Regions from separate parts of the Homo sapiens genome. Here region 1 is linked to region 2. Evidence: fine-mapped expression QTL. A gene starts in region 2. The other region holds a variant in brackets. All regions are shown on one strand. Distances are from middle to middle.

Region 1 (5,363 bases), 66 kb after region 2:
AAATGACCTCAGGGAAACACGGACCATGTCGGGTAGAGCAGGATCAGCAGCAGGGGGCTGGGAGGAGCCCACCACCCACCTTCCCTGCTGCTGCCCACCTGCTCCCCACACTTCACACACACACCCAGTCACACACCTGGCCCGGCCCCTTGGGAGTCAGTTTGTCAGCTGGGGCTGGGAGCAGGCCAGGCAGGAGGCCACGCGGGCTTGCCTGAAGGCTGCCACTGCTGCTCATTGTCAGGCTGCCATCCAGCTGCAGCTTGGGGCTCAAGGTCAGCTCCTCAGGTGGCCTGGTGGGGGAAGGCTGAGGTGTCAGCAGCCAGAGCTTGGCATCATCTGGTACCAGCCCCTGCCATCCTCCATCTCTGACCCTTGCCTCACCTGGTCAAGGAGGGGTCCACAGCTGAGGTGCTGCTCATGGCAGACACAGCTGTAAGGGAGCTGCTGCTACTGCTGCTGCTGCTGCTGCTACCGCTGCTGCTGCTGCTGGGAGAGGCAGTGATCTGGGGAGATGCAGGAAATAAGACCTGTGGCCTGTGGCTGAGGCATTCCCAGGTCCCCCTACCCTGGGAGAGTACCTGCTGCAAGGAGGCGCTAGGTGTCATGAAGGCGTCAGGTGTCATCAACTTGGGCTTGGTCTCACTGCTCAGACTGAGGAAGTCGGCAGGTGCAGGCAGCTCCACGATTCGTCGGAGGTCAGGCTGGGAGCCGTGAGCGGCTGACCCCAGGCCCTCAGAGCCCAGTTCGGGCCGAGACTCTCCAAATGCTGCAGGGCAAGTTGCCACTTGAGTTAGATCTCAGACCCTGGTCAGTCCAACTTACCCTACCTCCCTCTCACGCCCTACTCACTGAAGTCCTCGTGGGCAGTGTGGGTGGGCAGTGGGGCCACCACATCAGGGTTCAGCTGTGGCTGGAAGCGGATCTGCACATCTTGCAGTGCCCTGCAGGAAAAGAAGGGGGAGAATAAAGTGCTCCAAGGGCAAGGGTCAGTAGAGTGGAGACAGACACAGACAGGACACTGGCGGGCCTCCCCACTCACTCACTTAGTATGCACACAAAAGAGCTTGATGAGCACACCGGCCGCAGACTCCATGGCACCGGCTCCATGGGTACCATCTGAAAGGACAGTGTGGATGATGAAGCCCCTGGCCCTCTCTGTGCCTCCACAACCCCCTAGATATATGGACACATAGCTCTGACCCTGAGGCAGCTCACCAGCACCCAGGCTGTCATTTTCCTCTTCGGCAGGCAGCACCTCAGTGTGCCGTAGCCGGCAGCGACTCACAACCTGGATACCAAAGCTCAGCACAGGGTGGGTGAGCAGGAACTCCGAGATGGAGCTGAAGCAGGCGTGGCCCTCCTCCTGGTTTTGCAGCAGCTCCATCACATAGAGGACCTGCACAGGCAGAACGTTCCTAGCTGAGCTCAGAGGCTAAGGGCTGTGATGCGCCACCTGCCCCCCGGCCTTCCTCTATAATCCCAACTCTGCCCAGGGTACCCCATGGCAGCCTACCTTCCGTTGCACATCGCTGAGAATCAGGTATTCTGCTGAGAGGTCCAAGCAAACCTTGAGGCTAGGGGGCACACTCACTGAGCTGAAGATATCTGGGGAGAAGCTAGAGAGCCACAAAGCAGAGTGAATGAGCCTGAGAACTGAAGGAAGCTACATTCCCAACCCTGCCGCCCCTGCCCAGTCCCCCAGCCTTCCAGCCACTGCTTACCGAATAGTCTGCAGGCAGGTCCAGGATACTGTACACCACATCTTTAACTCTCGGTTCTGGTCAGCACCAGTAATAAGGAACCTCCAGAAAGGGACACTGCAAGGCAACAAGGCAGTGAGTGACTGGCTGGGGCCCCTGCTGGGAGCCATGGTCCAGCCCACCACCCACTAGGCTGCCCACTCACTCACTCAGGGTCTTGTTTCTTATGGTTGTCACAGAACAGGAGGCAGGAGAGGGGCCGCCCATCATGAGGTTTCCACTCGTGCAGACACCTGCAGGTAGGCAGATGAGGGGCCTGAGTGAGTGGTCGGGTGGGCTACCTCGGGAGGATCCTGGTCCCTGAGGCCCTGCCTTACCTTGGCTCATCTTGCCCCTCAATGTAGATCTGCCAGAACTTGACATAGCCATCGTGGCTCGCAGTAGCCAGCACAGTCCCATCAGGAGAGAGGGCTCCTTCACTGAGGCACTAGAAAGAACCCAAAAAGCTTTGCTGACTAGAGGTGAGAACAAGCCCCTCCCAAGTGAGGATGGCAATGAGCTGGGCTGACTCACGGTGGGACTGGCATGCTTGTGTGACTGACTAAATGAACAGGGTTCCTAGAGAAGGCCAGACCTGCAGGGTGCTGCTAGATAAGGAGAAAGCTGCACAGGTGAGGGCCAATTTGAGCTCAGAGTCCCCACGGGCAGAATGCTAGTAAAGCTGCCCGGGCAGCTGTGGATATAGGGAACAGAAGATGGATATGAGGAAGTGGGGAGGGCAGGGGAGGCAGGCAGTCACAGGCTTACCGTGCTATGACCTTTTACCACAATGAAGCCCTGCTTGATCTGGCTAACATCCACAGGCCAGGTACTGTGGCTGGAGCGGAGCATGTCCAGGTCCCACACCTCAGCCTGGAAGGCACAGGGAGGTGAGTGTGCAGCCCAACCCCACACTATGGCTTCTCTGGCGCCTCTTCGCCATGTCAGCCCCCTCACCCGGTCTTCATGCAGCAGGGCCACTGTTGGGCTGCTCTCCTC[A/G]CAGCAGTCTTCGCTCTCCTCAGGGATGAAGGGGCACCAGATGATCCTGCGAAAGTGGTTCAGTGGCGTGCCCTCTGGCTGCCGAATATGGACCAAGATCTCTTCTCTGAGCAGGGTGTTAAGGGCTAGATAGATGAATGAAGAGGCGTGACACCCCAGCTCCGCCCACCCTTCTTCAGTCCCACCACCCACAGGAAGGAATGGATACTGAATTTTGCCATTAACCAGAGCCAAGCGCCACACGAACAGGTTGCCTGCCTCATCCAGGCAGGCCAGCTGTGGAGAGTTGAGGTGCGCGAAAGCCAGATCAGCCACACTGCCTGTGAAGCCCTTGAGCAAGGTCCGCTCCGAAGTGCTGACGCTGATCACCCGCACCATGGCAGAGCCATTGTTGGCAGCTGGAATCAGGAGAGCAGTGGACCATGAATACGTATCCAGGCTCAGGCAGTAGCAGAGAAGCGCTGCCCCACCTGTCTCCCTGCCACCACCAGAGTCTCAAGCTTGGTTTTCCCACCCAGCTCCCCAAGAGGCAGCATGGACAAACCTTCCATTGTACCCCTAAGGCCTGAGTGGCCTGATGTTGGAACTGGCTCTGTGGGACATCCAGCAGAACATTCCTTCCTCCTCACTGTCTTTACTCACCCCGAATGGCATAGGCCAAGAAGGAGTTAGACACAGCAATCAGGTTGCCATAGTAGTACTTCTGTTCCCAGTCATACTTGGCGACAGGCTGAATTTTCACCTGAGAACCCAGGGTGAGAAAAGTCATGGAACTTCCCCAGAGCCTAGGTGGCCCCCAACATCCCTGGGGATGGGAGAGGACACAGATGCAAGTCCAGCTACCCACTGTTACCTCCTGGAGCCAGACTCCCACAGAGGCTTGGCACCCAGCCCTGGCTTCCTGAAACTGGGAAAGTGTCAAGGTGGTCCCCATAGGAACTGGCAGCATGAGGGAGACTGGAAAGGCTGGGTGTGCCCCCGTACATTATATATGCCACAGCATCCCAGTACCTACCTTGTTGCTTCCCCGGGCCTTGCTTGAAATGCTAGAGTCACTGCTAGCCACAATCTCCACCTCCTTGGCCAAAATCCCAATGCAGGTGGAGCTATCATCTCCTGAGAGACAGCTGTGGGGAAGAGTGCAAAAACTTTGCCTCTTGTTCACCCAAAGGCTCAGCGGGCAGGGTTGGGAGGAAGCGAGGACATAGCCAGACTGGGGAAGGTATCTAGTCCAATGTCAGCTTCGCCTGGTCCACTGGCCCCAGACCCACAGCTCTGCTTGCTCATCTCCTTCCTTGGGAATGAGCCTACTTTCATTCTAAACCAGGTATCCAGGCCAAACCCCTGAGCTTGTCCTTGCCTCTCATCCTAGTGCAAGCTCAAGCTCCACCCCAGGTCATCTAGAGAGGAAGCAGCAGAGGCTGCTGGCCCCGCTCACTCCCCATCTCATGCCTTCAGCTAGCAGACACCCCAAATACACCATCACCACTATTGTCGTCTCCTAGGTACTCACATGACCTGCTTCTCTTGCAGGTTAATGGGTGGCATGGTCCGAAGACCAGTCTTGTTTGCTGAGGTACTATCACCTGAGCAGAGCGGGTCTGGGACCAGAAGTCCATTGAGGTCCCCATTGTAGGCACTGGATGGCCGTGGGCTCTCTGCACTGGGGCCTGGGGACAAAGAGGGTCATTCTGATAAGGTTGCTCGACCTGCCCACAAGCCTCTCCCCTTTCAGAGTTTCCTTCAAGAACTATGAGGTGCTCTAGGAACACTCAACTGAGCAAAGCATGTCCATGAGGAGGAGGGCCCTGTGTTCATCTCTCGTTCCATAAACACTGATGTAGGCAGGACCAAGGATGAGCATGAGGCTCTTCTACCTGGGGGAGGGGTACAAGCCATCAAGGACCCTTTGAGGGCAGTGAATACTCAGGTCTGGGTCACTACAGAAGAACTCTGTGGACTGAGTGAGGGCATAGGAGGGGTCAGGAAAGACTTTATACAGCAGTTAGTGTGACCAGAACACACAAACACAGGAAGGATGGAGTGAAAACAAAGCTACAGAGGCATCAGGTATGATGCCGTGGCACTTAGACTCTCCCTGTGGGCCATGAGAACCATAAAGAGTTTCAAAAGGGAAGGTGATGTGGTCAGTTCTGGCCAGTGGGAAGATTACTCTAAGATAGCATGCAGAATGGTTGAGAATCTGGGTGAGAGAGATCAAGGCCTAGACCAATGTAGTGTCAGAGTTTGGAGAGAAGATGGGCTCCTAAGGCATGGAAGGGCACTGGTAAGATGTGGAAGGGGCTGCCCCACACAGAAATGGCTCAGAAGAAGCTATCTTGGGCAAGTAAACACAGAAGGCAGGGACATAAAGGAGCTGGACCAAAAGGAGAGAAACTATGGGGCAGCGTGTGGAGTAAGGAAAGACAGCATTTCAGTTCTTTGCAACTGGCTGGGTTTCAAACACTCTCATAGGCTCAGACACCATTTCCAAAATCCCCAGGTGGCAAGGAGCCTAGGGCTCCACATTCAGAACATAGCAAGTTTCCAGTCACAACAGTCTTTGAATTATTTTGGCGCGATCTCGGCTCATGGCAACCTCTACCCCCTGGGTTCAAGGGATTC
Region 2 (5,363 bases):
ACCTGAGAGCTGGCACAAGGGGGAGCCAGCAGTCCCATCTTGAAAACTTGGCCTCTGGGTAGGCAGCTTGTTGCCCCCAGGCCCTCCTCCACCCAAAAGTCGTTTTGTTCCCGAGGGGCCTTGGGAGGGAGCCCAGAGGCAGGAAGCTGATGGCCTCCCATTGGCCCTGGGTGTGTTCCCCACAGACCATCAAGAACATGATGGAAATTGAGAAGGTGAAGGGCTTCTGCCAGGTGGTGGTGGCCAGCAAGGTGCGGGAGGGGCTGGCCCACCTCATCCAGTCCTGTGGCCTGGGAGGCATGCGGCATAACTCCGTGGTGCTGGGCTGGCCCTACGGCTGGCGACAGAGCGAGGACCCCCGTGCCTGGAAGACCTTCATTGGTGTGTGAAGGCCTGGGGCCTGGTGGGCAGGGGTGAAGTGAGGTGGCAGTGGGCGGAGGGCCACAGACTGGTGGTCAGCCGTGCTCCTCCTCCCCAGACACCGTGCGCTGCACTACGGCTGCCCACCTGGCCCTGCTCGTGCCCAAGAACATCGCCTTCTACCCCAGCAACCACGAGCGCTACCTGGAGGGCCACATAGACGTGTGGTGGATCGTGCACGATGGTGGCATGCTCATGCTTCTGCCCTTCCTGCTGCGCCAGCATAAGGTAGACCAGGGGGTGGGTGCAGATGAGAGGGGCTAGGCCCTTGGAGGAGCAGCTGTGACCAAACCGCCCACCTGGTCCCTTGCCTCAGGTCTGGAGGAAGTGCCGGATGCGCATCTTCACAGTGGCCCAGATGGATGACAACAGCATCCAGATGAAGAAGGACCTGGCTGTCTTTCTGTACCATCTGCGCCTTGAGGCCGAGGTGGAGGTGGTGGAGATGGTGAGCCCTCTGCCCTGCCCTGGCCCCGTGGATACCATGTCCCGTGCAGCTGGGTCCTCACGGCCAACCCTGTCCCCAGCATAACAGTGACATCTCTGCATACACCTACGAGCGGACGCTGATGATGGAGCAGCGGTCGCAGATGCTGCGGCAGATGAGACTGACCAAGACTGAGCGGGAGCGAGAAGTCAGTGCCCTTTGTGGTTCACGCCAGGGCGGGTGGCAGGGTCAGGCCTTTGGAGACCGCATCGGTGGGTGCGGAGGAATCAGAATGACTCACCGCAGCCCTACCCAAGCTAGTGCTCATTTCCCGGAGGCAAGGTGGTCACATTGGGCCAGACAGGCCCCATCCCCCTTTTCCTATGGGACCAAGGCTATCTCCTGCAATTGTCCTCAGGCCCAGCTGGTCAAGGATCGGCACTCGGCCCTGCGGCTGGAGAGCCTGTACTCGGACGAGGAAGATGAGTCTGCAGTGGGGGCTGACAAGATCCAGATGACGTGGACCAGGGACAAGTACATGACTGAGACCTGGGACCCCAGCCATGCCCCTGACAATTTCCGGGAGCTGGTGCACATTAAGCCGTGAGTGCAGCAAAAACAGCCCCAGCGGCACTGGAATCTAGGGGTGGAGGTGGGGTGGGGCAGACAAGTAGTGTTAGATGGGCCAGGGGTGGGGACCCTCCTTGCAGGATGGCTCATGGCGACCTGTGACTGGCTACACTACGTGTAGGGACCAATCCAATGTGCGGCGCATGCACACTGCTGTGAAGCTCAATGAAGTCATTGTCACGCGCTCCCACGACGCCCGCCTGGTTCTCCTAAACATGCCTGGCCCACCCAGGAACAGTGAGGGCGACGAGAACTGTATCCCTTTGTGGAGAGGCAGGCAGTTGGGAGGTGGATAGCATGGGAGGTCAAGCCAGCGGCTTCTCTCCTGGGCACCCCTGGGTGGGCATGGCCCAGGTGGCCCGGGTTGCCCGTTGATTCTGTTGTTGCCTCCTTGACTTGAGGCCCTGCAGACATGGAGTTCCTCGAGGTGCTGACCGAGGGCCTTGAGCGGGTGCTGTTGGTGCGCGGTGGTGGCCGTGAAGTCATCACCATCTACTCCTGAGCCCAGTGTCATCTTGTGGCCTGGAGTCGAGGTCTTGGCCAGGACATAACAAGCTGTGGTCTGGGGTAACAGCCTCTTCCCAGCACCCACCTGCCAGCCCTGCTTGCCTGGCCCTGTCCTGGACCCAGCTTTGCTAGGTCTCCTTGGAAACCAGGCCTGGGCCTCAAAATGGAGATGGATCCCAGGTCTTGTGGGACCCTGGGATGTTTGGGGACTTTACTATCTAGCACCCCAGTAGGCCTGTCCTGGCCAGAGAAGACTGGTAGGGGCCGAGTGGGGTTTGAAGGCAGCCGGCCCGGCCCAGCCCAGGAGCGCTATTTATTGCATATTTATTGTTTGGATGTCACCATCAGAGACGAAGGGAAGGGTAGCCAGGGAGGGAGTCCAGCCCAGCTGCCTGCAGGAAGATCTGGCTCAGTCTACTATGGGCAGGGCCCCCCACCAAGCTGAGCCGAATGGAGACAGCTGAGCTGAGGCCTGACTTTTTCAATAAAACATTGTGTAGTTCTGGGCCTCCTGCTGCCCCGGCTCTGTTTCCCCTGGCGCCAAGAGAAGAAGGCGGAACTGAACCCAGGCCCAGAGCCGGCTCCCTGAGGCTGTGCCCCTTTCCGGCAATCTCTGGCCACAACCCCCACTGGCCAGGCCGTCCCTCCCACTGGCCCTAGGGCCCCTCCCACTCCCACACCAGATAAGGACAGCCCAGTGCCGCTTTCTCTGGCAGTAGGCACCAGGGCTGGAATGGGGCCGCCCGGCTCCCCATGGCAGTGGGTGACGCTGCTGCTGGGGCTGCTGCTCCCTCCTGCCGCCCCCTTCTGGCTCCTCAATGTGCTCTTCCCCCCGCACACCACGCCCAAGGCTGAGCTCAGTAACCACACACGGCCCGTCATCCTCGGTAAGCCCCCACCAGGCCCCTGATGCACCACGCCAGACCCTGGGGAGCCTGGGCCCCAGCCCCTGGCAGCTGACCTGGCCAAAGCCCTTCTGCCCTGCATAAGCCCCGACATAAGTACCTGCCCTGGTGTGGGGAGGGGCCAAAAGCTTGTCCCTTAGAGGAATGACGTCCCTTCTCCCACCACACTGTGACTCTCAGTTGTCTAACCCAGGGGGGGCGGAGTGGGGGACGGGGTGTGCCTGAGGTCTTGGCTGGGGCATCACAAGCTGTGGTCAGTCACAGCCACACCAGACTCTGGGCCAAGCCCCACCACTCCTTCCTTGGCCCCCACCCACCAAGGACAAGATGCCCAGCCCAGGATCGGTGAGCAGGAGAGGCCCATCCATGCCCGGCCCCTATTAGGCCCAGCCCCCATGCCCCCAGACCTATCTGTTCCCACCTTGGACTTTGGCAATAAAGGAGCGCCAGACTGGGTGTTTGCTCTGCAGAGGCAGGGGTCAGCGGCCTTGGCCTCAGCACCTCAGCGCCTTCCCTTCCTCAGGGAAGCCTGGGCTTTGGCTACTGGGGGGACAGCAGGGAGAGGGGGTGTAAGCAGGGGAGGGTAAGTGTGCTTTGTACCTGGGGGTTGAGGGTATGGGAGGTGGGGGGTGGGTCTGGTCACTGCAGCATCTGGGGTGACGGGGGTAAGGGTCACGGGGGGAATCCAGAGTCCAGAGTGAGGGCTGCTGCTCACAGTGCCCGGCTGCCTGGGGAATCAGCTAGAAGCCAAGCTGGACAAACCAGATGTGGTGAACTGGATGTGCTACCGCAAGACAGAGGACTTCTTCACCATCTGGCTGGATCTCAACATGTTCCTACCCCTTGGGGTAGACTGCTGGATCGATAACACCAGGTACAGCCATGTGCTCCACCCTAGCCCCAACACGCTGCCCCTTGGCTACTGGCTGCTGAGTGGCACCCCCGCCCCGCAGGGTTGTCTACAACCGGAGCTCTGGGCTCGTGTCCAACGCCCCTGGTGTCCAGATCCGCGTCCCTGGCTTTGGCAAGACCTACTCTGTGGAGTACCTGGACAGCAGCAAGCTGGCAGGTTTGTGTCAGAGGGCAGGGCTGGGGCTCCAGGCCTGGGTGCTGGCCCACAGCAGGCATGGCCCAAGCCCCCGGTGCTGCTGGTCCCCCCACAGGGTACCTGCACACACTGGTGCAGAACCTGGTCAACAATGGCTACGTGCGGGACGAGACTGTGCGCGCCGCCCCCTATGACTGGCGGCTGGAGCCCGGTGAGTGTCTCTGCGGATGACCGGCTTGGGGTGGGGCAGGTGCCCCAGACCCCAGCTGCCCTGACCCCTTCCACCCGCTGCAGGCCAGCAGGAGGAGTACTACCGCAAGCTCGCAGGGCTGGTGGAGGAGATGCACGCTGCCTATGGGAAGCCTGTCTTCCTCATTGGCCACAGCCTCGGCTGTCTACACTTGCTCTATTTCCTGCTGCGCCAGCCCCAGGCCTGGAAGGACCGCTTTATTGATGGCTTCATCTCTCTTGGGGCTCCCTGGGGTGGCTCCATCAAGCCCATGCTGGTCTTGGCCTCAGGTGAGAAGGCCTCGAACACTTAGGTCCAGCGATGGGTGAGACCAAGCTGATCCTGGGCCTGCCTTCATTGCGGCTCCTGCTCACAGTGGCCTCTAGGGGTGCTATCTACCACTCCTGGGCTGGCATGCTTGCTGTCACTGGCCCCCAGAGCAGTGACCCTGGCCTGAGCAATTAGGGTGGCTCCTTCCAGAGTCTGTGTCAGTGATGGCAAAGGGGCAGTGAACACAGAAAGTGAATCCCAGCTATCTGCTCCCAGGGTTTGTTCTTGTAGCCCCAGAGCCTGCCTGCCCAGCCCTTGCCTGCCTTCCACTTGCTCGCAGGAGTGCCTTTGCCCAGGGATGTGCTTCACTGAGGATGGATCTGCCAGAGCTAGGGCCAGACCCCCCGAGGCCCCACCTGCTCTTCCCTAGGGAGTGGCACCAGGGCCCAGCACTGACACAGCTACCACCTACTCCCCACCCCCTGTACCCTGGGAGCTGGTCTGGAGAGAGAAACACAGTCTGGACAAGAGAAACGCTCATCAGACACCACCAATAAACATCAAACAGACACCATCTTGTTTCCCCCTTTCTGGAGCACAACTCTGTGGCCCCCATTGCTGCATAAGCCACACAAGGAGCAGAAAGACACATGCCCGAGGGAGGACAGCCAGCACCGCCCCCACCATCCCCACACATCCTGGGCCTCACCCACCATCCCCACACACCCTGGTCCTCAGGAAGCCCCGCCTACTTTTTTTTTTCTTTTTCAGACAGGGTCATTCTGTCGCCCAGGCTGGAGTGCAGTGGCGTGATCATAGCCGCAGTCTCAATCTCCCTGGCCCAAGCAATCCTCCTGCCTCAGCCTCCTGGTTAGCTGAGACTATAGGCACACAACACCACACCTAATTTATTTTTGTTTTTTAGTA

What was found. PIP is the estimated chance that this variant, and not a neighbour inherited with it, causes the effect.
Region 1: its variant is the best candidate, but not a certain one, in a credible set for the expression of LCAT in tibial artery (GTEx, PIP 0.85).

What each region holds. Positions count from the first base shown.
Region 1 is chr16:67,874,990-67,880,352 of GRCh38, reverse strand. It overlaps EDC4 (enhancer of mRNA decapping 4), which reads right to left. Exons shown (of 29, transcript NM_014329.5): 2 at 4,252-4,408; 3 at 3,754-3,865; 4 at 3,381-3,480; 5 at 2,947-3,136; 6 at 2,697-2,844; 7 at 2,508-2,612; 8 at 2,078-2,187; 9 at 1,910-1,993; 10 at 1,722-1,817; 11 at 1,514-1,616; 12 at 1,216-1,396; 13 at 1,044-1,116; 14 at 850-941; 15 at 579-766; 2 more. Among named protein-coding and RNA genes, the nearest start is that of EDC4, 4.6 kb to the right of the region's middle. The variant A/G (reference allele first, on the strand shown) is at 2,739.
Region 2 is chr16:67,941,456-67,946,818 of GRCh38, reverse strand. LCAT (lecithin-cholesterol acyltransferase) reads left to right here and starts at 2,699. Exons shown (of 6, transcript NM_000229.2): 1 at 2,699-2,871; 2 at 3,607-3,763; 3 at 3,843-3,958; 4 at 4,053-4,148; 5 at 4,232-4,456. The coding sequence starts at 2,718. SLC12A4 (solute carrier family 12 member 4) reads left to right here. Exons shown (of 24, transcript NM_005072.5): 18 at 186-381; 19 at 479-648; 20 at 737-868; 21 at 948-1,055; 22 at 1,266-1,450; 23 at 1,599-1,732; 24 at 1,888-3,345. The coding sequence ends at 1,979. RefSeq lists enhancers at 3,568-4,467, 4,451-4,500.